7 linked regions of the Homo sapiens genome follow. The protein of the gene in region 7 purifies or fractionates together with the protein of the main gene of each other region. This does not show direct contact. Each region holds a gene or a part of one and is shown on either strand. Other genes may lie near its edges. The genes, in order: PDCL3, KDM4B, TUBB4A, TLE2, GNB1, THOC3 and CCT6A.

Region 1 (4,247 bases), on a different chromosome or scaffold from region 7:
TCCTGCCTCAGCGTCTCAGGTAGCTGGGATTACAGGCGCCCACCACCACGCTTGGCTAATTTTTGTATTTTTAGTAGGGACAGGTTTTCACCATGTTGGCCAGGCTGGTCTTGAACTCCTGACCTCGTGATCTGCCCGCCACAGCCTCCCAAAGTGCTGAGATTACAGATGTGAGCCACCGCGCCCGGCTGTGTTTTTAAATTCCTTTCTACCTGTTAAACATGGAGGTATCAAAATACATACCCACACAGAACGTGAAGGAGAACCTCAGCCCAGAGGCATTCTTGCCAAGTGAAACTCTTTATCTCTTTATTGAAATAATATTTCCAACTATGCTTTACCAGAAAGACATTTTTAAACATGACTTTATATACTGTACCACTAAGATACTCATCTGGCGGCCGGGTGCGGTGGCTCATGCCTGTAATCCCAGCACTTTGGGAGGCCAAGGCGGGTGGATTGCCTGAGGTCAGGAGTTGGAAACCAGCCTGGCCAACATAGTGAAACCCTGTCTCTACTGAAAATACAAAAAATTAGCTGGGCGTGGTGGCGGGCACTTATAATTCCAGCTACTCGGAGGCTGAGGCAGGAGAATCACTTGACCTGGGAGGCAGAGGTTGCAGTGAGCCAAGATCATGCCATTGCACTCCAGCCTGGGTAACGAGCGAAACTCTATCTCAAAAAAAAAAAAAAAAAGATATTCAGCTGGGGAAAGTATAAATATACAAACATACATAAACACACACATATAGGAGATACATCAGTTACATATTCCAGTGTTCAAAGGCGTACAGCATTTCAAACTAAATACATGTTTGCATCTTATTTTGACCTTTTTTGAATGTACCATGAGGGGAGAGAGAAGTGTGCAATTGTTTTTATTTCTAAAAAAAAGTCTTGAAGTCTAGTGAACTTACATATAACGATTGCTTTGTGTAAGTGAACAGTAACATTAAACACTTATGTACGTATGTGTGGATATATAAAGATATATATATAGAGAGAGATATATATATTTTTTTAATTTTTGAGACAGGGTCTTGCTCTGTCACCCAGGCTGGAGTGCAGTAGCACTATCTTGGCTCACTCCAGCCTCAGCCTCCCGGGTTCAAGCAATTCTCGTGCCTCAGCCTCCTGAGTAGCTGGGACTACAGGCATGTGCCACCATGCCTGGCTAAGTTTTGTATTTTTAGTAGAGACGGTTTCACCGTGTTGCCTAGGCTGGTTGTGAACTCCTGACCTCAAGTGATAAGTGATCCACCTGCCTCAGCCTCCCAAAGTTCTGGGATCACAGGCCTGAGCCACCACATCTGGCTGGATATAAATTCTTGAGTCAGGAATCTGAAGTCTTGTTTTTTTTTTTTTTTAAGAAACAGGTTGAATTTATATAACATTCAACCAAAGTACCTAGAGCCGAAAATACTGGTGTTACTCATCTTCGTGGAACACTTTTTTTTTTTTTACCCAGCATGACTGAGGTATGATGACCAAAACAATTGAATATATTTAAGATATACAACATGGAGATTTAATAGAGGTACAATGTGAAATGATTACCACAATCCAAGTAATTAACCATCCATCATTTCACATAGCTGCCCTCACTGTGGTGAGAATCCTTAAGATCTACTTTCCTAGCAAATTTCAAGTATACAATACGTTATTATTCACTGTAGTTACCATGTTCTACATTAGGTCTTCAGAACTTACCATCTTATAACTGAAAGTTTGTATCCTTGGCCAACATCTCCCATTTCCACTCCTCCCCTGATAACCACCATTCTATTCTCTGTTTCATGGAACACTTTAAGTTAATAAGTAAAATTCAACTGAGCACGTTGGCTGAAGCCTGTAATCCTAGCATGTTGGGAAGCTAAGGCTGGAGGATTGCATGAGGCCAGGAGTTTGAGACCAGCCTGGGCAACATAGCGAGATCCCATGTCTACAAAAAAGAAAGTAGCCAGGTGTGGTGGTGCACACCTGTAGTCTCAGCTGCTAGGGAGATGGGCGGGAGGATCATTTGAACCCAGGAGTTCAAGGTTACAGTGAGCTATGATTGCACCCATAGCACTCTAGCCTGGGTGATGGAGTGAGAGCCTGTCTCCAAAAAAGTAGATTAAGATAAGACTTCAGTAAAATTGGTTTTCAGATTTTTTTTATTTTGAGACAGTCTCGCTGTGTCGCCCAGGCTGGAGTGCAATGGCGCGATCTCGGCTCACTGCAAGCTCCGCCTCCCACGTTCACACCATTCTCCAGCCTCAGCCTCCCGAGTAGCTGGGACTACAGGCACCTGCCACCATGCCTGGCTAATTTTTTGTATTTTTAGTAGAGACGGGGTTTCACCGTGTTAGCCAGGATGGTCTCGATCTCCAGACTTCGTGATCCGCCCACCTTGGCCTCCCAAAGTGCTGGGATTACAGGCATGTGCCACCGCGCCCGGCCTGGTTTTCAGATTTTAATCGATGTGTCCAGTTAGCAGAACTCTCTGCCTTGATGTTCCTTTAAGCGAAGCCATTTGTTGTAGAATCTCTTACGTAGTCCTTTGGTTCTGCCTGGGCTCTTCTCTGAAGTAGGCAAATACATCACTTGATTTTGCTTCACTTGGTCTCAGACCACAAGAATTTTGCTGATTTTAAGAGTGAAGTATTGGAGCTGAGTCTTCAGTTACTGATTCTTTATTATCTGGTGCTTTTTTGATTAGTTGGAACAAATGTGTAAGTTCTAGGGTATCACCATACATTTATTCTTTGACCCCAATAGATTGAGATACTGGACATGAGGCTGAAGAGTTTATTAAAATTGGATTTAATGATTAGATTGCCAGAAGGTCTGTGGAAATTATTTCCTTCAAATTTTTCATGCTGATTTCCTTCCTGGGAAATTGTAGTCATCAGAGGATAGGTTTATTCTTTGTATTTTTGAGACAGGGTCTCGCTCTGTCGTGTAGGCTGGAGTGCAGTGACATGATCATGGTTCACTGCAGCCTTGAACTCCTGGGCTCAAGCGATCCTGCCACTTCAGCCTCCCAAACAGCTGGGATTATAAGCACACACCACCACTGTACCCAGTGAATTTTTATGTTTTATTTACTTTTATTTTTATTGTTGAGACAGTCTCACTGCTGCCCAGGCTGGAGTGCAGTGGTGTGATCTTAAATGTCTGCAACCTCTACCTCCCAGGCTCAGGTGATCCTCCTGCCTCAGCCTCCCAAAGTGTTGGGATTACAGGCGTGAGCCATTGTGCTGGGCCAAATTTCGATAATTGTATTTTCTACTTAGAAAAAACTAGGTTGATGGACTTAGGGCGAGGGAACCTTTGCAGCACAGTGCCTTAGGCAATTTGCTTTTTCTTTACCATATAGAGTTGGAATGGAAACTGTCTGAATCTGGAGCAATTATGACAGACCTGGAGGAAAACCCTAAGAAGCCGATTGAAGACGTGTTGCTGTCCTCAGTGCGGCGCTCTGTCCTCATGAAGAGGGACAGCGATTCCGAGGGTGACTGAGGCTACAGCTTCTATCACATGCCGAACTTTCTTGTGACAAATTGTCTGGATTTTTTAAAAAAGGAAAAAGCAAGAATGAATCCTTGTGGTTTTTAGTTTTGTATAAATTATGTTTCAAATCTTTACATTTTGGAAATAATCATTGCTGGAGATTCTGTTAAATATTTTGGAACTCTTTTTTTTTTTAAATTATAGTATTTCCTCTAAAAAAAATTAAAACCAGCCATTTGTATGGCAAATGTCTGTTTTCCTCATTTATATTTTAAGTAAGCCATAAAACCTAGTCACTATTTTTTGACATATAACTATAAAAAGAAATACAGTTTTAAATGTGAATAAATTATACAGTGGAAAATTGCAGACTAAGCCTTATAGATACATTGTTTATTTTTATTTTATAAAGAGAGCAGTGAGATTATTAAACTACAGGAATGGTCTCTAGGACAAAAGAATGTTAGTATTGAAGAAACAGACAATTTTTGTGAAACATTCCCTTATTGAAGCAATAACTGAAAGTTTCCAGTTTACTGCCATATTTGGTTAAATGTGTTTTCTTGTTAAAATAGTTTATCTCAGACTGTTAACTAATTTTTTTTTTTTTTTGAGATGGAGCTTTTCTGTGTTGCTGAGGCTGGAGTGCAGTGGCACAATCTCAGCTCACTGCAACCTCCACCTCCCGGGTTCAAGCAATTCTCCTGCCTCAGCCTCCTGAGGAGCTGGGATTACAGACGTGCACCATCACG
Region 2 (3,500 bases), on a different chromosome or scaffold from region 7:
GTCTCTGTTCCTGGCTTAGGATGCCGGACAGAAGAGCAGGGGCCCAGCCTGGGCTCCGTTCTCATCTGGTGGTCTTGACGACGTCTCTGGATCTCTGCCCTCTGTCCCATGCCCCACACAGGCTTCAGAGTTGGAGAGACCTGGATTCAGATCCCTCCTCTGAGGCAGTCACTTCCCCTCTCTGGGCCTTGCTTTCTTCTCTGTAAAATGGGTGTAATGGGAACACCTCCCTCCCAGGTGGTTGTGAGGATCAAAGCGGGTAAAAGGCGCTGAAGCTTGCAGGGTGCCAGGAGCTCTGAGTTCGGAGCCGGTTTATTACACAGCAAGGCCCTCTGCCCTGTCAGGGTCTCCCCACCTCTGCCCTATCCACGTTCTGGGCTGGGACATTCTGTGGCGGGGCTGTCCTGGGCACCGTAGGGTGAGTGTGAACAATATCCCTGACCACCACCCACCAGATGCTAGTAGCACCCTGTCCCCTAAGCGGTAGCAACCAAAAATGTCCCCTGGGAAGCACTGTCAACCCCGCAGTGAGAACCTTGGACTTGGCCTTCAGCCCTGCAGTAGCTCATGGTGTGCTGTGACCGTGATGGGCCTCAGCTCCCTTTCTTTCCTCCCCACTCACCCTTTAGCAGTGAGTGACTCCTATTTGCAAACTGTGTCCCGGACACACTCCTCACCTGGTTGTTCAGGTTCTCCGTGACTGTCCTTCTGCCCTTCCAGGGTGGCAGCTTCCACCTGAGAGGACAGGAGCCCCCACGGGGTCCCCTGCACGCCCTGCAATGAGGGGCAGCCCGGCATCTGTGGGGTCTTCTGGGCTGCTCTCTGGCCTCTGAGCTCCGGGTCTTCCTGGGCTGCTCTTTGGCCTCTGAGCTTTGGCAGGTCCTTGCCCAGGCTTGCTTGGCTGCCCCCAGGGGTGGCACTTCCACACCCTCCCAGTCACCATAGCCCTGACCTGTCGATTTGCCAGACAGTTTTCTTTAAGTCCATTTAAAAATGACTCACCTCTTTGATCTTGGCCTCTTCCTGAACAGTAATGTCCCCAGAGTTGTGGAACGTTAATGTGCTAGTTGCACATACTTTTATTTATTTATTTTGAGACAGAATCTCACTCTGTCACCCAGGCTGGAGTACAGTGGCTAGATCTCAGCTCACTGCAACCTCCGCCTCCCGGGTTCAAGTGATTCTCTGGCCTCAGCCTCCCGAGTAGCTGGGATTACAGGTGCCCGCCACCACACCCTGCTAACTTTTGTATTTTTAGTAGACACGGGGTTTCACCATGTTGACCAGGCTGGTCTCAAACTCCTGACCTCAAGTGATCCGCCTGCCTCGGCCTCCCAAAGTGCTGGGATTACAGGCATGAGCCACTATGCTCGGCCAAGTTGCACATACTTTTACTAATTCGCGTTCAAATGAGCTTAACCACTATATTAAAAAAAAGAAAATTTGTATCTTCCCAAATACTGAGGGGGGAGTGGATTGACGAATTGATGTTTCTTGGTTTTTGGACAAATTAATTTTCAAGCTCACTCCCTGCGTGACTGGCCTGTTCTAGGATGCTGGACTTGGTTAGATCTGGGTCCGTCTATTCCCTCCTGCTCCCTTGAGGAGCTCGGAAAATGGCCTTCCCTGTTGGGGCGGGGAACATGGGAAGTCTCTACCTCCTGCTTAGTTTTGCTGTGAACCTAAAACTGCTCTCTGAAACAAAGCATATTAAAAAAAAAAAAAAAAAAAAACTGGCTGGGTGCGGTGGCTCATGCCTGTAATCCCAGCACTTTGGGAGGCTGAGGCGGGCGGATCACCTGAGGTCAGGAGTTCGAGAACAGCCTGGCCAACATGGTGAAACCTCGTCTCTTCTAAAAATAAAAAAATTAACTGGGCGTGGCGGTGCACACCTGTAGTCCCAGCTACTTGGGAGACTGAGACAGGAGAATTGCACCGAGATCCTGCCACTGCACTCCAGCCTGGGTGACAGGGCAAGACTCCGTCTCAAAAAAATAAATAAGTGGCCGGGCGCAGTGGCTCACGCCTGTAAAGCCAGCACTTTGGGAGCCAAGGCGGGCAGATCACAAGGTCAGGAGATCGAGACCATCCTGGCTAACACCGTGAAACCCCGTCTCTACTAAAAATGCAAAAAAAATTACCCGGGCATGGTGGTGGCCGGTGCCTGTAGTCCCAGCTACTCGGGAGGCTGAGGCAGGAGAATGGTGTGAACCCGAGAGGCGGAGCTTGCAGTGAGTTGAGATCGCGCCACTGTACTCCAGCCTGGGCGACAGAGCGAGACTCCATCTCAAAAATAAATAAATAAGTAAGTAAGTAAGTAAATAAATACATAAAATAAAAAACTGGCCAGGTGTGGTGGCTCACGCCTGTAATCCCAGCACTTTGAGAGGCCGAGGCGGGAGGATCACCTGAGGTCAGGAGTTTGAGACCAGCCTGGCCAACATAGTGAAATCCCATCTCTACAAAAATACAAAAATCAGCCGGGCATGGTGGTGGGCGCCTGTAGTCCCAGCTACTCGGGATGTGGGGGCACGAGAATCTCTGGAACCTGGGAGGCAGAGGCTGCAGTGAGCCAAGATCACACCACTGCACTCCAGTCTGGGAGACAGAGCGAGACTCTGTCTCCAAAAAAAAAAAAAAGAAGGTAGTCAAAGGAGTAAAAACCAAAACAAACAAACAAACAAAAGATTTTCCCCTGCTCAGAACCTTCCGGTGACTTCCTGTTGCCCTTGGGAAAAATTCTGGGCCCTTTCGCGTGGCCCCTTCGCTCTGTCATCTGTGGCCTTGTCCTTCCTTCCTTTCCTCCCTTTCTTCCTCCTGCACCTGCTCCTTTCCTGGCACAGCCGCCTTCCCTGCCCGCCCTTCCCTGCCGCAGGACCTGTGCACTTGCTGTGCCCGCTGCCTGGTTCTCTTTCCACCCAGCCGGCTCCTTATCACTCTAGTCACTTCCCTTCCCTACTTCTCCTCCTTTGCATGTCACACGATCAGAGCTGGGTATTAGTCTGTTTGTGTATCTGTTTGTCTCATCTACTAGGGCAGGGGCTTTTTCTGGAAGGGCCGGAGAATAAATATTTTTGGCTTTGTAAGCCAGAGGTCATCTCTGTCCAGACCACTCTGCTTTGCCGTTGTAGCAAGAAAGCTCCCGTGGGCGAGTGTGCCTGTGTTTCAGTAAAACTTTATTTATGGACACAAACGTGAATTCCGTGCAATTTTTACATTATAAGACATTTTTCTTCTTTTGCTTTTTTTTTCCTCCAACGACTAAAAAATGTCAAAACCATTCTTAGACTGCAGGCTGTACAAAAACAGGTGGCGGGCAGGATTGAACCTGTGGGTTGTAGTTTGCAAATACCTGGCTAGGGTGTGAGGGCCACACTACGGAAAGCTATGGAAACCATGTCAGCCTCACGACCCCTAGAATGTACGGCAGCTCCTTAGACGTGGTGGGTGTTGAGTGGACATTCCTTGTTGAGTGAATGAATTTTTTTTTTTTTTTTTGA
Region 3 (2,745 bases), on a different chromosome or scaffold from region 7:
TTTTTTTTGAGACGGAGTCTCCGTTGCCCAGGCTGGAGTGCAGTGACGCAACCTCCACCTCCCAGATTCAAGCGATTCTCCTGCCTCACGAGTAGCTGGGACTACAGGCATGCATCACCACACCTAGCTAATTTTTTGTATTTTTAATAGTGACGGGGTTTCGCCATGTTGGCCAGGCTGGTCTCCTATTCCTGACCTCTCAGGTGATCTGCCTGCCTCTGCTTCCCAAAGTGCTGGGATTACAGGCATGAGCAACCGCGCCTGGTCTGAGCCCACACTTTTAATGCTCCTCCCACCCCCTGGCCACCCAGAGGCCATAGAATCTCTTGGCCCAACTGTAAGCCCTCTGGTCCTCCTGAAATCACTCACACCATTTGGCCAATCTCATTTCATCTTGATTTCACCCAGCCATTTCCCAAGGACCTATGATGGGCCACGGCCACAAAACTGCATCATTATGTTTTGAAATCTTCCAACAGATCAGAAAGGGGAAGTCACTTGTCCAAGGTCACACAGTTTGTCTTGTCAGTCCCGAGAATCTGCAGTCTAAACCACCAGGCTCGGGAGGAGGAGGGAGGGGGTGACCAGAGGTGGCTTCTCTGAGGATGTGGCATTGAGCTGAGACCTGAAGGAAGTGAGGAAAAAGTCAGGTGAATACCTGGGGGGAAAGCATTCTAAGCAGCCAAGCCACTAGTGCAAAGGCCCCAGGGCAGGACCACACCTGGAAAGCTGGAGTAACAGCTGCGGCTGAAGCAGAGTGAGGGAGGGGATGGGGCAGGTCCGGCAGGGCCTTGTGGCCTGCAGGGAGGATTTGGGCTTTGACCCCAAGGTAGGTGGGAGCCATGGAGGGCTGTAGGCAGAGGAGGGACGGGACCTGACTTACTTGCTCTCAGGTGTCCTCTCGTGGGTACTGTGGAGAGGACAGACTGGGTGATAAGGGTAGGAGCCAGGGGACCAGGACAGAGGGAATTGAACTTATCCAGGAGGGTGATGCTGGAGCTGAACTAAGGTGGAGACAGATGAGGGGTGAAAGAAAACGTTAGCTGTTCACAGTAATACCGGCCAATATTCTTTTTTTTATTCCATTTTTTTTTTTTTTGAGACAAAGTCTCACTCTGTCGCCCAGGCTGGAGTGCAGTGGCGCGATCTCGGCTCACTGCAAGCTCCACCTCCTGGGTTCACGCCATTCTCCTGCCTCAGCCTCCCGAGTAGCTGAGACTACAGGCACCCACCACCACATCCAGCTAATTTTTTCTATTTTTAGTAGAGACGGGGTTTCACCGTGTTAGCCGGGATAGTCTTGATCTCCTGACCTCGCTATCCGCCCGCCTCGGCCTCCCAAAGTGCTGGGTTTACAAGCGTGAGCCACCACGCCTGGCCAATATTCTTCTTTTTTTTTTTTTTTTTTTTTGAGACGGAGTCTTGCTGTCGCCCAGGCTGGAGTGCAGTGGCACGATCTCGGCTCACTGCAGGCTCAGCCTCCCGAGTAGCTGGGACTACAGGCGCCCGCCACCTCGCCCGGCTAATTTTTTGTATTTTCAGTAGAGACAGGGTTTCACTGTGTTAGCCAGGATGGTCTCGATCTCCTAACCTCGCAATCTGCCCGCCTCGGCCTCCCTAAGTGCTGGATTACAGGCATGAGCCACTGCGCCTGGCCAATATTCTAATACTGATTCTTTTCCTCCGGGAGCTTGCATTCCACAGTGAGCTTGCAGACAATAAACATGATTAACAAGAAAACACAGGCCAAGCATGGTGGCTCACGCCTGTAATCCCAGCACTTTAGGAGGCCATGGCAGGTGGATTGCTCCAGCTCAGGAGTTCAAGAACAGCCTGGGCAACATGTCGAAACCCCACCTCTACAAAAAAAAGATACAAAAATTAGCCAGATCTGGTAGCATAAGCCTGTAGTCCCAGCTACTCAAAAGGCTGGGGCAGGAGGATCACTTGAACCTGGGAAGTCAAGGCTGCAGTGAGCCATGATTGCACCTCTGTACTCCAGCCTGGGCAACATACCAAGACCCTGCCTGAAAATGATATTATTATTAATAATGATGTTAAATATTAATCTTTTTATTGTTATTATTTATTTGTTTTAGAGACAGGGTCTTGCTCTGTCTCCCAGGCTGCAATGGTGTGATCATAGCTCACTGCAGCCTCCAACTCCTGGGCTCAAGCAATCTCCCACCTGAGCCCCCCTAGTAACTGGTACTACAGGTGTGCCACCACCATGACTGGCTAATTTATATATATATATATATATATATATATATATATATATATATTTTTTTTTTTTTTTTTTTTTTTTTTTTTTTGTAGAGACATGGCCTCACTAGGTTGCCCAGGCTAGTCTTGAACTGCTGGGCTCAAGCAATCCTCCCACCTCTGCCTCCCAAAGTGTTAGGATTACAGGCATGAGCCACTGTGCCCAGTCTTGGTTTTTTTTTAGGCAGGGGGCGGGGGAGTGTTTTGTGTGTATGTGTGTTTTTGAGATGGAGTCTCACTCCGTCACCCAGGCTGGAATGCAGTGGCTCAATCTTGGCTACCTGCAGCCTCCTCCTCCCAGGTTCAAGCAATTCTCTTGCCTCAGCCTCCCGAGTAGCCAGGGACTACGATCGCTCACCAGCACACCTGGCTATAATTGTTATTATTTATTATTATTATTATTATTATTATTTTGAGACGGAGTCTCGCTCTGTTGCCCAGGCTGCAGTGCAGTGGCACAATGTCGGCTCACTGCAAGTT
Region 4 (3,500 bases), on a different chromosome or scaffold from region 7:
TCCCCTGTAACTCTCTAAAGATGTAGGGGAACACAAAAGAGCTGATTCATAGGAAGCTGTGGGGCTACTGAGACCCCCAGATCATCTTCCCCACCTGCTTTTGTCCAGCCATACCCTTATATGTGCCTTTCCTCGTGTAGCTGGGTGGTTCTTCTAGCCTTTAATCTCTGGACGCCGCCGAGAGCGCGGGACACACACTTCCCAACTGAGGACTAACCATGGGGGAGCTACTGGCCAGGAGGACAGAGTGGAGGTTGATGTAGGAGGAGCTGGGCATGGAGAGATCCCCATTGAAGGTGGAGTCTAAGCTGAAGGACATGGTGAACAGGCTGGACAGAGCTGGGGGCTCCTCAGGGCTGGGCAAAGAGAGTGAATCTTCAGGCACCGTGACCCCAGATCCTGCCTCTCACTGCTTTGGGGGCAGCTGTGAGCTCCTTCTTCTGTCATTCAGGGTTTCCATGGGCTGGTCTCATGCACACCATACTCCGGGACAGCTCTGAGGCCTCTGCACATTTGTTCCCTGTGGCTGAAATGCCTTTCTCTTCTTTCTGTAATTGGCAAACTCCTATTCATCCCTCAAGACCCATCTCATTTGCCCCTCCTCCTTGAAACCTAAGAGGAGCTAACTCCTAACTCCGAAGCTCCTCTTTTTTTTTTTTTTTTTTTGAGACAGAGTTGCTGTGTTGTGATCTCAGCTCCCTGCAACCTGCGCCTCCCAGGTTCAAATGATTCTTGTGCCTCAGCCACCTGAGTAGCTGGGACTACAGGAACGCACCACCATGCTCGGCTAATTTTTGTATTTGTCGGTAGAGACAGGGTTTCACTGTGTTGTCCAGGTTGGTCTTGGATTCCTGGCCTCAAGTGATCCACCTGCCTCGGCTTCCCAGTGTGGGAATTACAGGCCTGAGCCACCGCGCTTGCCCTCCCAAGCTCTTTATGTCCAACCTGCTCTTCTCTTTCAGGAGTGCAGGTGGACACAGCTCTCCATCCCGTGGCCCCGAAGCTTAGGTGGGCTAAGAACATTTCTAGGGATCCCATGGTGAATATCTCCTAGCTCACTGGGTGTCCCCCAATGCGTCTTTACACAGAAACACTTCTGTATGGCCAGGAGAGGACATTTGAAGCCCTCCAGTCTTCTCTTCTGCAAATGTGTGGTTATTTCCACAGGCATCTTGTTAGTGAGACTCCAAGAGGTTTGGGGTGGAACAGAGCCTGATTCCTGTTTGTGCTTAAAATGAGGTGGAGGACCCTGAATCTTTTAAAAATCAAACCGAGGCCGGGTGCAGTGGCTCACGCCTGTAATCTCAGCACTTTGGGAGGCCGAGGTGGGTGGATCACTTGAGGTCAGGAGTTCGAGACCAGCCTGACCAACATGGAGAAACTCCATCTCTACCAAAAATACAAAATTAGCCAGGTGTGGTGGCACATGCTTGTAATCCAAGCTACTTGTGAGGCTGAGGCGGGAGGATCACTTGAGCATGGGAGGAGGTTGAGGCTGCAGTGGGTCATGATTGCACCACTGCACTCCAGCCTGGGCGACAGAGCAAGACCCTGTCTGTCTCAAAAAGGAACATTCCAAGCTAAGAGTGAGAAGTTCTGTCTCCTAGGCCTGGTCTGTCTTATTTTTTTTGTTTTTTGTTTCTGAGACAGAGTCTTGCTCTGTCACCCAGGCTGGAGTGCAGTGGTGCAATCTCAGGTCACTGCAACCTCCACCTCCCAAGTTCAAGCGATTCTCCTGCCTCAGCCTCCCGAGTAGCTGGGATTACAGGTGCCTGCAGCCACGCCCAGCTAATTTTTGCATTTTTAGTAGAGATGGGTTTTCGCCATGTTGGCCAGGCTGGTCATGAACTTCTGACCTCAGATGATCCGCCCGCCTCGGCCTCCCACAGTGTTGGGATTACAGGCCTGAGCCACAGAGCCCGGCCAAGGCCTGGTCTTTCATAGTCTTGCTCTGTGACCTTGAGGGGACACTGCCTCAGCTTCCATCATCTGCTTAAGGGGAGTGATTGTCCTTGCCTGGCTGTTCCCTTCTCTGTCCCTCCTCCCTCCTCTCTCCCTCCTCCCTGTGCTGTTGTGCGCTCAGAGCAGATAATGGATGTGCAGCCCTAGGGTTCTGTGTAATTCTGATTAATATTAATGATTCGACATGCAGTTGTCTGCTGTGTTCCCAGTCCTGGGCCAGCTGCCTTTCTCTAGGGGGGTGCTGAAGAGGGAGAATGTTGGACTCCACCCCCGCAACCCCTGATGGTGCTGGGCACCCCCCAATATCCAAAGGGGCTCGTAGGCTGACATGGTGGCTCACACCTGTAGTCCCAGCACTTTGGGAGGCCGAGGCGGGCAGATCACTTGAGGTTGGCAGTTTGAGACCAGCCTGGCCAATACGGTGAAACGCCGTCTTTACTAAAAATACAAAAATTACCCGGGCGTACTAGCAGGTACCTGTAATCCCAGCTACTTTGGAGGCTGAGGCAGGAGAATCCCTTGAACCTGGGAGGCAGAGGCTGCAGTGAGCTGAGACTGCAACATTGCACTCCAGCCTGGGTGACACAGTGAGACTCTGTCTCAAAAAAAAAAAAAGATTATCCAGCGTGATGGTGCATGCCTGTAGTCTCAGCTTCTGGTGCTGAGGCAGGAGGATCTCTTGAGCCCTGGAGGTCAAGGCTGCAGTGAGCCATGATTGTGCCACTGCACTCCAGCCTGGGTGACGGAGTGAGACCCTGTCTCAACACAAAACAAAGAGGGGCTCGTGACCCCATCTCTTCCCTCTTTACCCCCAGATTTTCTCCCTGGGCCACTGCCCTAACCAGGACTGGCTGGCGGTCGGAATGGAGAGTAGCAACGTGGAGATCCTGCACGTCCGCAAGCCGGAGAAATACCAGCTGCACCTCCACGAGAGCTGCGTGCTGTCCCTGAAGTTTGCCTCCTGCGGTGTGTCTTCTGGGGCGGGGTGGCACGCCCTCAAAACCCCAACAAAACCCAGGGTGCCTATTCAATCTGAATCTTAGATAAATAACAAATAATGTTATTTATATACTAAGTTTTATATACTCAAAAGCAAATCGTTAGTACAAGTATATCCCAAATGGTGTGTGGGATATACTTATACTAAAAACCAAATAATGAAGTATTTGGGATATACCTGTCCTAAAAATTACTGATGACTTATCTGAGATTCAAATTTAAGGCTGGGTGTGGTAGCTCACGCCTGTCATCCCAACACTTTGGGAGGCCAAGGCAGGCAGATCACCTGAGGTCAGGAGTTCGAGACAAGCCTGGCCAACATGGTGAAACCCTGACTCTATTAAAAGTACAAAAATTAGCCAGGCGTGGTGGTGGGCGCCTGTAATCCCAGCTACTTGGGAGGTTGAGGCAGGAGAATTGCCTGAACCCGGGAGGTGGAGGTCGCAGTGAGCCAAGATCATGCCACTGCATTCCAGCCTGGGAGACAAGAGTGAGATTCTATCTTAAAAAAAAAAAAAAAAAAAAAAAGAAAGAAAAGA
Region 5 (3,500 bases), on a different chromosome or scaffold from region 7:
AAAAAATATATATATATGTATATATATACCCACAAACATGCGCATTGCACTCCCGCCTGGGTGACGGATGGAGACTCTGCCTCAAAAAACAAAACAAAACACAAATAAAGCTACATGAGAGGCCAGGCACCGTGGTTCACGCCTATAATCCCAGCACTTTGGGAGGCTAAGGCGGGTGGATCACCTGAGGTCAGGAGTTTGAGACCAGCCTGCCCAATATGGTGAAACCCTGTCTCTGCCAAAAATACAAAAGTTAACTAGGCTTCATGGTGGGTGCCTGTAATCCCAGCTACTCAGGAGGCTGAGGCAGGATAATCGCTTGAACCCAGGAGGCAGAGGTTGCAGTGAGCCAAGATTGCACCACTGCACTCCAACCTGGGTGACAGAGTGAGACTCTGTCTCAAAAAAACAAACAAAAAAGAAAACTACATGCAAGGCCCACAATGATTACTTGTTATGTATGTATGTATTAATGTATCAGATGTACATTTGTAATATGTTTATCAATATATTTGTACTAAAAGGCAACTTTTTTTTTTTTTTTTTTTTTTTGAGACTGGGTCTCACTCTGTCGTCCAGGCTAGAATGCAGTGGTGCGATCCTAGCTTACTGAAGCCTTGAACTGCTGTGCTCAAGCAATCCTCCTGCCTCAGCCTCCTGAGTAGCTGGTACCACAGGTGCACATCACTGTGCCCAGCTAATTTTTAAAAAATATTTTTTGTGGGCCGGGCGCGGTGGCTCAGGCCTGTAATCCCAGCACTTTGGGAGGCTGAGGTGGGCGGATCACGAGGTCAGGAGATCGAGACCATCCTGGCTAACTCAATGAAACCCTGTCTCAACTAAAAATACAAAAAATAAGCCAGGCGCGGTGGCAGGTGCCTGTAGTCCCAGCTATTTGGGAGGCTGAGGCAGGAGAATGGCATGAACCCAGGAGGCAGAGCTTGCAGTTAGCCGAGATCCTCCAGCCTGGGTGACAGAGCGAGACTCCATCTCAAAAAATATATATATATATTTTTTTGTGGAGACAGGGTCTCCCTTTGTTGCCCATGTTGGTTTCAAACTCCTGGACTTAACCAATCCTCTTATCTCAGCCTCCCAAAGTGCTGGGGTTACAGGCATGAGCCACCACCCTCCCTCCTTTGAGTAAAATGAAGGGCATTAGGTGTTTTGATTTTTGACAGCTACTTTCAGGGTCCTGGAGCCTGTTAGCTTGCTTCCTGGCCCTTGCCTCTATGTTCTAGGTGAGTGGCACCTCAGATAATTGATTTTTGAGTAGGTAAAGGCACTACTAGGCAACGTGAACCCAGCTTTCCAACAGCTCCCTGACCCGGGACTAGGAGGCATGTCTTCTCTCACCTTCTGGAGGATCAGTGGACAGCTTACGTGTCCCTAATCCCTCTGGAAGTCAGCAGTTATTAAGCTCTCTGACCGGGAGACCTCTGTAAAGGTGATCCTCCTAATCTAGGAGGATGAGCTGCTTTAGATCAGCTCTGATACTCGACAGAAAGTCTCAGAAGGGCTGGGCAGAAATAAAGCTAGAGTGGGAACATGATACCATTACGTAGAAATAATTTTAAATGTTTAATATGTTGATGACAACCTGGATTGAGAAGTTTGCTTTAAGAATTGCAACTGAAGGCTGGGTGCGGTGGCTTACGCCTGTAATCCCAGCCGAGGCAGGCAGATTGAGCTCAGGAGTTCGAGACCAGCATGGCAAAACCCTGTCTCTACTAAAAATACAAAAAAGTAGCCAGGCATGGTGGTGCACACCTGTAATTCCAGCTAATGGGAAGGCTGACGCACGAGAATTGCTTGCATCTGGGAGGCAGAGGTTGCAGCGAGCTCCAGCCTGGGTGACAGAGTGAGACTCTCTCTCAAAAAAAAAAAAAAAAAAAAAATTGCATCTGAAAAATAATAGGATGGGAGCCTGCACTTAGTTTTTAGTTCTGTGATAAATTTTGTAATAAAGTGCAGGTGAAAAGGTTTTTATTTGTTCTTAAACTCATTGACACCTGTATCAAAACATCTAGTTTGATATTAAAAGTGTCAGAGTTATCAACAAAACTTGAGAGAGCGTTACTCCAGCTTTAGGTCAGCTTTAAGAAGCCACATATGTTCACAGCTGAAATAGTTAAAACCTGTGTTTTGAGGCGCTGTGGCTTATGTCTGTAATCCCAACACTTTGGGAGGCCAAGGTGGGCGGATCACTTGAGGCCAGGAGTTGGAGACCAGCCTGGGTAACATGGGGAAACCCCATCTCTACTAAAAATACAAAAATTAGCCAGGTGTGGTGGCACGTACCTGTAATCCCAGCTACTTGGGAGGCTGAGGCATGAGAATCACTTGAACCCAGGAGATAGAGGTTGCAGTGAGCTGAGATCACACCACTGCACTCCAGCCTGGGTGACAGAGCGAGACTCTGTCTCAAACAAACAAACAAACAAAAACAAACAAACAAAAAACCTTGCGTTTGATAGAAACTTTAAAATTAAAAATCCTTATACTATCATTTACCGTACTGACAGATATCCCTGCATCAAACAGTGGAACCTTCTTGCTCTTCCTTGAAAACAGCATTCTGTGCTACAGGGTTCCTTAGGACCTCTCATAAGCAACTGTGGTTCCCAGGAGTTACCTTTCACCCACCTTACTTGCCTGCTAAGGTGAAATTCTTTTGCTCCTTATTCATATTCTCCTTTGTAGTATGGAGCTCCTTTTCAACATGTGGATTCCGAACTGAGCACAGTTGCCAGAGCAAGGAAATAGTTATGAAAAAATTCATGGTCGGGCGCAGTGGCTCAACGCTTGTAATACCAAAACGTTGGGAGGCCGAGGTGGGCGGATCACCTGAGGGTCGGGAGTTCGAGACCAGCCTGATTAACGTGGAGAAACCCCGTCTCTACTAAAAATACAAAATTAGCTGGCTGTGGTGGCGCGTGTCTGTAATCCCAGCTACTTTGGAGGCTGAGGCAGGAAAATTGCTCAAATCTGGGAAGTGGAGGTTGCGGTGAGCCGACGCACCATTGCACTCCAGCCTGGGCAACAAAAGCAAAACTCCATCTCAAAAACAAAAAAAAGAGGCCGGGCGTGGTGGCTCCCGCCTGTAATCCCAGCACTTTGGGAGGCTGAGGTGGGCAGATCACGAGGTCAGGAGATCGAGACCATCCTGGCTAACATGGTGAGACCCTGTCTCTGCTAAAAATACAAAAAGAATTAGCTGGGCGTGATGGTGGGCGCCTGTAGTCCCAGCTACTCGGGAGACTGGGGCAGGAGAATGGCATGAACCCCGGAGGCGGAGCTTGCAGTGAGCCGAGATGGCGCCACTGCACTGCAGCCTGGGCCACGGAGCGAGACTCCGTCTCAAAAAAAAAAAAGAAAAAAAGAAAAAATTCGTGATAGTTACTGGTCTCTGCTCCCGGACCATGCGCAGTGGTGCTGTTGTTTACCAAGCAGGTGAGGAGGGAACGCCTCCTTTGGTTTCTAGGAGACCTTGATTCCAA
Region 6 (4,191 bases), on a different chromosome or scaffold from region 7:
CTTGCCCAGGTGCTTACTTACACTGTCTCTGGAAGGCCACACAAGAAATTTAACTTTTTCAGAAGAGAAGTTTGGGGACACAGGATGGAGGGAAGCTTTTCAATCTATTCCCTTTTATACATTTTACATTTGTTACCAAGTGCACGTGTTGCCTTTTAAAAATTGGGTTTTTAAACACATTTACCACTACTACTCACCACCAAAACCTTCCCCCCTCAGCTCTTCTCCAGGGCCTTGACTGGCGCTGGCAGCTCACCACCCCTTTTTTCTCCAGCAAGAAGCCACTGGTTTAAGGGAGATATGAGAGGTGGGGTGGATACGCAGGTGGACATTTACTTTTCACTCTATATCTTTTATTTTTATATTTACAATCATGTGCATGTAATACTGTTACAGGAAAAGGGTCCCAATCCAGACCCCAGGAGTGGGTTCTTGGATCTCACTCAGGAAAGAATTCAGGGCAAGTCCGCAGTGCAAAGTGAAAGCAAGTTTATTAAGAAAGTAAAGGGAATAAAAGAATGGCCACTCCATAGACAGAGCAGCCCCGAGGGCCGCTGGTTGCGCATTTTTATGGTTTTTCCTGATGATATGCTAAACAAGTGGTGGATTATTCATGCCTCCCTTTTTTAGACCGTATAGGGTAACTTCCTGACATTGCCATGGCATTTACAAACTGTCCTGGCACTGGTGGGAGTGTAGAGGTGAGGATGACCAGAGGTCACTCTCATCGCCATTTTGGTTTTGGTGGGTTTTGGCCGGTTCCTTTACTGCAACCTGTTTTATCATCAAGGTCTTTATGACCTGTATTTTGTGCTGACCTCCTATTTCATCCTGTGATTAGAATGCCTTAACAGTCTGGGAATGCAGCCCAGTAGGTTTAAGCCTCATTTTACCCAGTTCCTATTTAAGATAGAGTTGCTCTGGTTCACACGCCTCTGCCATTACCTTTTAAAAACAAAAAATCCATTTTTATTTAAAAAAAAAAAACAAAACCTCCAGACCCCTTCTTAACACCTCTTCCCTCACTCCACACCCGCTAGCCCTTTTCATGGGACAAGCTCACCAGCTGGTCCTTCTCCAGCAAAAAGACCAGAGCTTTCTGCTCTTAAGGGAGGGGACTAGGGATTACGGAACAACCCCAGAAGAAAGGTGATGAGTTAACTGTTTAGAAGGTTAGTGTTGGTTCTTTTATTCGATTAAACAGGAATACACATATATCTACCAAAGAATAGGTAAGGGAGAAATAAGAACACTAAAAAAACTCGGAATCGTTAAGTGTGAAGCATATTTGGAGTTAAAAGAACCAAATATTACTAAGTAAGCAGACGCGGGCACGCGCTGCATACCGGGATTTGTAGTCCCTTCCGGGGCGGGGTACAGCGCGCCTGCGCAGAGGGGCCGTCGCTCTTCCGGGCGCATGCGTGCGGCAGCGGCGCCAGGACTGACTGCGCCGTGGAGGCTGCTGCAGTGTTGTGAGTTGGAAGCTGGGGAGCTCGGCATGGCGGTCCCCGCTGCAGCCATGGGGCCCTCGGCGTTGGGCCAGAGCGGCCCCGGCTCGATGGCCCCGTGGTGCTCAGTGAGCAGCGGCCCGTCGCGCTACGTGCTTGGGATGCAGGAGCTGTTCCGGGGCCACAGCAAGACGCGCGAGTTCCTGGCGCACAGCGCCAAGGTGCACTCGGTGGCCTGGAGTTGCGACGGGCGTCGCCTAGCCTCGGGGTCCTTCGACAAGACGGCCAGCGTCTTCTTGCTGGAGAAGGACCGGTTGGTGAGCTGCCGGGGCTCGGCTCAGGCTAGGGAGAGGGGCCGTGGTGAAGTGAGGTGCGGTAGTGGGAGAGCGAATGGGGGCGAACGGAGCCGCGGGGGTGAAAGGAGAGTGGGTTTGAGGGAAGGGGAAAGGGGGAGTGTGGAGATGAGGAGGGAGTAGGGAGAAGGTGGAGTGTGGGGGTGACGGGGTCGTGAGGGGTGAGGAGAGGAAGACTGGGGGCGTGTGAAGAGTGTGGAAGTAAGGAGGTTGGCGATGGCGGGTGAAGGTGAGGAGAGGGTGGATGGGACAGGGCTGCGATGGGAGCCTTACTGGTTTGGAGTCGAATCCTGTGCTGATAAGAAGTGGCTAGGGGCTGTGGTGGTGGTGGTGGTGGTGGTGGTGGTACGTTGGTGGTGGTACGTTGGTGGTACGTTGGTGGTAGAGTAAGGGTGGAAAACCAGGAAGGAGGAGAAGGCCAGGGAGGGCACAAAAGTAAGGGCATAGGTGTGGAAGCTGAGAAAAACAGTTCAGAAGGCCTGCGGAGAAGAGAAGGGAGAAAGGGCTTGGAGGAACTGGATTCTGAATTACCCAGATCTTTACTGGTCCCAGCATACTTTGGTTTGAATAAGCTTATAAAGTTACATGCGGAGGCAGTTACATCTATGTGAAGTCACATCTGGATTCTGTTCTTTCAGGTCAAAGAAAACAATTATCGGGGACATGGGGATAGTGTGGACCAGCTTTGTTGGCATCCAAGTAATCCTGACCTATTTGTTACGGCGTCCGGAGATAAAACCATTCGCATCTGGGATGTGAGGACTACAAAATGCATTGCCACTGTGAACACTAAAGGTGACTATTCAGAGAGAGGGCAATAGGAAGATAAGCTGTTTGGATTCATTCAACAACCATTTTCCGAATATCTTTTCTGTGCTTGGCACTCAGCTGTGTATGAGACATCCTGAGCTGAATAAGAGTTTCCAGCTCCAAGGACCTCCCCTGCGGGGAGAAGACATATATATACAAATAACATAGCAAGATATGGTTCATTTTATAATGGAGAGGTCTGCAAGGTGGATACCCAGAATAGAAATGAAAACAAAAGTCTGCCTAGGGGAGCCAGGGAAGGCCTCACCAAATTTGAGCAAACTTTTAGGGTAGCCATAGGAGTTGAGTGGTCAGGGTGCTGTGGGTGGGGAATGGGACATTTCCAGGAGGGAACGGCATGTGCAAAGGCATGGAGAATTTGGAAAATTCTGATGAGTTAGAATGGTTGAAACTTGGATGGTCTTGGTGATCTGGGAGAAAGTTGTGCAGTACATTTATAGGCTCTGTTGTAAGTATTGAGGCCGATATTGTATGGGACTCTGAGTTTTCATTGATCGTAAGATGTTCCATTAGGAAAGAAAGTTGGTAAATAACTGTGATACACCCAAAATTTTGAAATGCTTTCTGATACATTTTAAGATACAGTGTAGATACTAAAATGTGAGAAAATATGCGTTTTAGAATGGAAAAAGTTGGTGAGATTTTTAATTGATGTGTTCAGTGTGGGCCACTGGACTTTGTTGACAAGACTTATCTCTGGAGGCGGAATGGTGTGGTTTTTCCCCAAGTATACAGCTGCTGATCCATGAGTGATTCAGGTGATGCGTGGGTGAACATTAAAAACCAGTTTTGCAAATATCTTAATGTCTACTAGAAGAACTAGCACATAGAATTTATTATTCAGTTGAAGCTAAATTTATTTTATTTTTATTTATTTTATTTTATTTTTATTTTTGAGACAGGGTCTTGCCCTGTTACCCAGGATGGAGTACAGTGGCACAATATTGGCTCCCTGCAGCCTCCACCTGGGCTCAAGCCATCCTCTCACCTCAACCTCCTGAGTAGCTGGGACTACAGGCACATGCCACCATGCCTGGCTAATTTTTTGTAGAGACGGGTTTTGCCATATTGCCCAGGCTGATCTTGAACTCCTGGACTCAAGTGATCTGCCTACCTTGGCCTCCCAAAGTGCTGGAATTACAGGCTTGAGCCTCCACAGCTGGCTGCTAAATTTATTTAAGTAAACTTTTTTGAATCAATTTTAAGAAAAATCTTGAATAAAGAAAAGTATAGTGTTTAATGGATAGGACAAAAATTGTGATGTTGGCATGCGAATGGCTGGAGTTGAGAAATGCTGGTGTAAGAGAAAAGGGGGCTTTGGGGTCAAATCTGGGTTTAAAATCTTGGCTTGGCCGGGCACGGTGGCTCACGCCTGTAATCCCAGCACTTTGGGAGGCCGAGGCGGGCGGATCACGAGGTCAGGAGATCGAGACCATCCTGGCTAACACGGTGAAACCCCGTCTCTACTAAAAATACAAAAAAATTAGCCTGGTGTGGTGGCAGGCGCCTGTAGTCCCAGCTACTCGGGAGGCTGAGGCGAGAGAATGGCGTGAACCCAG
Region 7 (3,500 bases):
GAGCTCAGTGAACTGTTAAATCTTAGGACTAATCCAGTTTCAGAAGCTGCTTTCTTAATGTTTCCCTGCTTTCTGTAACTTTTTTTTTTCTTAATAGAGAAGTGAATTCTGGCTTTTTTTACAAGAGTGCAGAAGAGAGAGAAAAACTCGTGAAAGCTGAAAGAAAATTCATTGAAGATAGGGTTAAAAAAATAATAGAACTGAAAAGGAAAGTCTGTGGCGATTCAGATAAAGGATTTGTTGTTATTAATCAAAAGGTGAGAATGAAAACTCAATGTATAAACTAAATAGTACGTATCATCCTTTTTACTTTTAAGGTGAAAGATGTTGAAATTAATTTTTATTTTTGTTACAGGGAATTGACCCCTTTTCCTTAGATGCTCTTTCAAAAGAAGGCATAGTTGCTCTGCGCAGAGCTAAAAGGAGAAATATGGAGAGGTATCCGAGTAATTTGACTTTTACTCATTTTGCAAGTGAATTGGGATTATTTCTTTTTCCTTATACTTTATTTTTGGGTTTTTCAACTGTATAGTTAATTGGCATTAACTATATTCACATTGTGCACCCCGTCAGCACTGTCCATCTCTAGGACTTTTTTCATCATCACAAACTGAAACTGTATACCCATTAAATAGTTACTCCCCATTTCTCCCTCCCCCTTGCCCCTTGTAAACATTATTTTACTTTTTGTTTCTGAATTCAATATACTTTTTTCCAAAGAGCTCCCCACAATAAAAAGCTTTTTTTAAAAATTTTTTATTATTATTTTTTGAGACAGTCTTGCTCTTTCGTGCAGTGGCATGATCTTGGTTCATTGCGACTACCACTTCCTGGGTTCATAGGATTCTCAGCCTCCCGAGTAGTTGGGATTACGGGTGTCTGCCACCATGCCCACTGAATTGCTTTGTGTTTTTTTAGTAGAGATGGGGTTTTGCCATGTTAGCTAGGCTGGTCTCAAACTCCTGGCCTCAAGTGATCCACCCACCTCAACCTCCCAAAGTGTTGGGATTACAGGTGTGAGCCACCATGCCTGGCTAATAAAGAGCTCTTGTCCACCTTTTAGATTTCATTTGCTAACTTGGGGAGAGTGGTTTAAATGGAGGGTTAAGAGAAAAGACTAGTTTTTAGCTGGTTGATGGCAAATGGAAAGGCTTAAAGTACATTTTAAAATTTAATTTTGTGTGTAATTCTGAAAAATTCCTTCCTAAAAATTACTGGTCTTATCTTTGAAATTCACTGGTAACGTTGCTTATCCATCTCCCTTAAAATGCTATTTCAGGCTGACTCTTGCTTGTGGTGGGGTAGCCCTGAATTCTTTTGACGACCTAAGTCCTGACTGCTTGGGACATGCAGGACTTGTATATGAGTATACATTGGTAAGTGTATTTTTTTCTTAAAGGTAATAGAACCTTTTAGCTCGTGAATTATTTTTGTTTGTTTGTTTGAGGTGGGGTCTCACTCCTGCCCGGGCTGGAGTGCAGTGGTGTGATCACAGTTCACTACAGCCTCATCTTCCTGGGTTCAAGTGATCCTCCCGCCTCAGGCTTCTGAGCAGGTGGGACCACAGACGTGTGTGCTACCATGACTGGCTAATTTTTTTTTTTCTTGGTAATTTTTGTAGAAACAGGTTCATAATTGTGTTGCCCAGGCTGGTCTTAAACTCCCGGGCTCAGGCTGTCCTTCACCCTCAGCCTCCCAAAGTGCTGAGATTACAGGCATGAGCCACCGTGCCTGGTTCATGAAGTCTTTAGCAGAAAAATTAATTGAAATTCAGGATCAGATTTTTGTTTATATACATTTTGAAGGTTTATGTGTAGTAATGGGAAGCCATTGATGGGGAAAATCACATTTCTTTTATGTGATTTTTCAAAAGGAGATAATTTGCTTTAATGTGATCAAGTTTGTTCCTTATTAATATGCTACTTGTCATTCTCTGTAAGTCCCTCTTCTCTCTTCACTCTGCACAAATCCTGTTTTTGAAAATCATATTTTTTCTACACATAGGGAGAAGAGAAGTTTACCTTTATTGAGAAATGTAACAACCCTCGTTCTGTCACATTATTGATCAAAGGACCAAATAAGCACACACTCACTCAGATCAAAGATGCAGTGAGGGACGGCTTGAGGGCTGTCAAAAATGCTATTGATGATGGTAAGATCCTCACTGTATTTCAATTCTTTTATATTGTTTTGCTGGTCTGAAAGGCATGGCCGAATACTGTGTTTTTATCAGTAGTTTACACAGCCAGACACCATGCAAAAGCAGTCTTCCCTTTAGAATGACTGATGGTATGCTAAGGTTTTTCATAGCATATCATTATTAAAGGTGAATACAAATAAATGAACTAATACTGATCTGTTGAAAGCTGCCAGTGGCTAGTGAAGCCATTCTGGTTGAACCATTCTCCTATTTGGTATGTTAGTCACTTGTATTTTGTCATAGTAAATTTGTAAGAAATTAATGGCTTTCATATGTATATTTTGTTATTCATAATTAGTTCTGCAGTTTTCTTAGCATTTTTCCTTTTCCCCCATCCAACAGGCTGTGTGGTTCCAGGTGCTGGTGCCGTGGAAGTGGCAATGGCAGAAGCCCTGATTAAACATAAGCCCAGTGTAAAGGGCAGGGCACAGCTTGGAGTCCAAGCATTTGCTGATGCATTGCTCATTATTCCCAAGGTGTGCATGCTTTTAACAGTCAATCTTCCAAAAGATTCAGCTGATCAAACCTTTCTGATAATGTAGGATTTATTCATAAAGTGGATTTTGGATAAGCAAGTTTGATCAGTTTTCTTTCTGACTCTAGAACAGGTATTCCTCATCATCCAGATATATTTGGTTTCTCTGGGAAGCCTGAATAGCTGACATTGCAGATGGCAAGAGATAACCTGTAGTTTAATATTTGCAGTATTAGGGGTTATACTTGAGTACAAACTTGCTTTTTGCTTTTGTTTTAAACTGATATCATTGTTTTCTATTATATACCAGTTTTGATATATAATTTATGACTGGTGTATTGCTGCTGGGTTTGGGGTAGTTGAGAGAGTTGATCAGTAACTTGTGTCTGGTATTCTCTGAAGGGAACATAAATGTTCTGTCTTTATGCAATGAGTTTTTTTTTTTTTTTTTTTTTGAGACAGTTTTGTTCTTGTTTCCCAGGCTGGAGTGTAATGGTGCGATCTCAGCTCACTGCAGCCTCAGCCTCTCGAGTAGCTGGGATTACAGGCACCTGCCACCACACCCGGCCAGGTTTTTTTTTATTTTTAGTAGAGATGGGGTTTCACCATGTTGGCCAGGCTGGTCTCGAACTCCTGACCTCAGGTGATCCACCTTCCACGGCCTCCCAAAGTCCTGGGATTACAGGCGTGAGCCACTGCACCAGGCCGAGATTTTCTTTTTCTTTTTTCTTTTTTTTTTTTTTTTTTTTTTTTTTACTATCAGTTATTAGTTCCTGTTTTCTCAAGAATTAAATTTGTTTACTTTAGGTTCTTGCTCAGAACTCT

What was found.
Region 1: the proteins of CCT6A (region 7) and PDCL3 purify together in Homo sapiens (affinity purification with mass spectrometry; 3 studies listed by BioGRID and IntAct, with this or other methods). This does not show direct contact.
Region 2: the proteins of CCT6A (region 7) and KDM4B purify together in Homo sapiens (affinity purification with mass spectrometry; 3 studies listed by BioGRID and IntAct, with this or other methods). This does not show direct contact.
Region 3: the proteins of CCT6A (region 7) and TUBB4A purify together in Homo sapiens (affinity purification with mass spectrometry; 2 studies listed by BioGRID and IntAct, with this or other methods). This does not show direct contact.
Region 4: the proteins of CCT6A (region 7) and TLE2 purify together in Homo sapiens (affinity purification with mass spectrometry; 3 studies listed by BioGRID and IntAct, with this or other methods). This does not show direct contact.
Region 5: the proteins of CCT6A (region 7) and GNB1 purify together in Homo sapiens (affinity purification with mass spectrometry; 2 studies listed by BioGRID and IntAct, with this or other methods). This does not show direct contact.
Region 6: the proteins of CCT6A (region 7) and THOC3 purify together in Homo sapiens (affinity purification with mass spectrometry; 3 studies listed by BioGRID and IntAct, with this or other methods). This does not show direct contact.

Annotation. Positions count from the first base shown.
Region 1 is NC_000002.12:100,572,993-100,577,239, forward strand, and holds the end of PDCL3 (phosducin-like protein 3), read left to right. Parts: intron 1-3,361; coding exon 3,362-3,504; 3' UTR 3,505-3,747; downstream 3,748-4,247. UniProt on the Homo sapiens protein: Acts as a chaperone for the angiogenic VEGF receptor KDR/VEGFR2, increasing its abundance by inhibiting its ubiquitination and degradation.
Region 2 is NC_000019.10:4,972,113-4,975,612, forward strand, and holds part of KDM4B (lysine-specific demethylase 4B), read left to right. Parts: intron 1-3,500. UniProt on the Homo sapiens protein: Histone demethylase that specifically demethylates 'Lys-9' of histone H3, thereby playing a role in histone code. Does not demethylate histone H3 'Lys-4', H3 'Lys-27', H3 'Lys-36' nor H4 'Lys-20'.
Region 3 is NC_000019.10:6,496,565-6,499,309, reverse strand, and holds part of TUBB4A (tubulin beta-4A chain), read left to right. Parts: intron 1-2,745. UniProt on the Homo sapiens protein: Tubulin is the major constituent of microtubules, a cylinder consisting of laterally associated linear protofilaments composed of alpha- and beta-tubulin heterodimers.
Region 4 is NC_000019.10:3,001,781-3,005,280, reverse strand, and holds part of TLE2 (transducin-like enhancer protein 2), read left to right. Parts: intron 1-2,777; coding exon 2,778-2,928; intron 2,929-3,500.
Region 5 is NC_000001.11:1,807,588-1,811,087, reverse strand, and holds part of GNB1 (guanine nucleotide-binding protein G(I)/G(S)/G(T) subunit beta-1), read left to right. Parts: intron 1-3,500. UniProt on the Homo sapiens protein: Guanine nucleotide-binding proteins (G proteins) are involved as a modulator or transducer in various transmembrane signaling systems.
Region 6 is NC_000005.10:175,965,516-175,969,706, reverse strand, and holds the start of THOC3 (THO complex subunit 3), read left to right. Parts: upstream 1-1,391; 5' UTR 1,392-1,498; coding exon 1,499-1,765; intron 1,766-2,439; coding exon 2,440-2,596; intron 2,597-4,191. UniProt on the Homo sapiens protein: Component of the THO subcomplex of the TREX complex which is thought to couple mRNA transcription, processing and nuclear export, and which specifically associates with spliced mRNA and not with unspliced pre-mRNA.
Region 7 is NC_000007.14:56,058,265-56,061,764, forward strand, and holds part of CCT6A (T-complex protein 1 subunit zeta), read left to right. Parts: intron 1-97; coding exon 98-257; intron 258-355; coding exon 356-438; intron 439-1,279; coding exon 1,280-1,376; intron 1,377-2,004; coding exon 2,005-2,152; intron 2,153-2,205; exon of another isoform or gene 2,206-2,338; intron 2,339-2,542; coding exon 2,543-2,676; intron 2,677-3,482; coding exon 3,483-3,500. UniProt on the Homo sapiens protein: Component of the chaperonin-containing T-complex (TRiC), a molecular chaperone complex that assists the folding of actin, tubulin and other proteins upon ATP hydrolysis.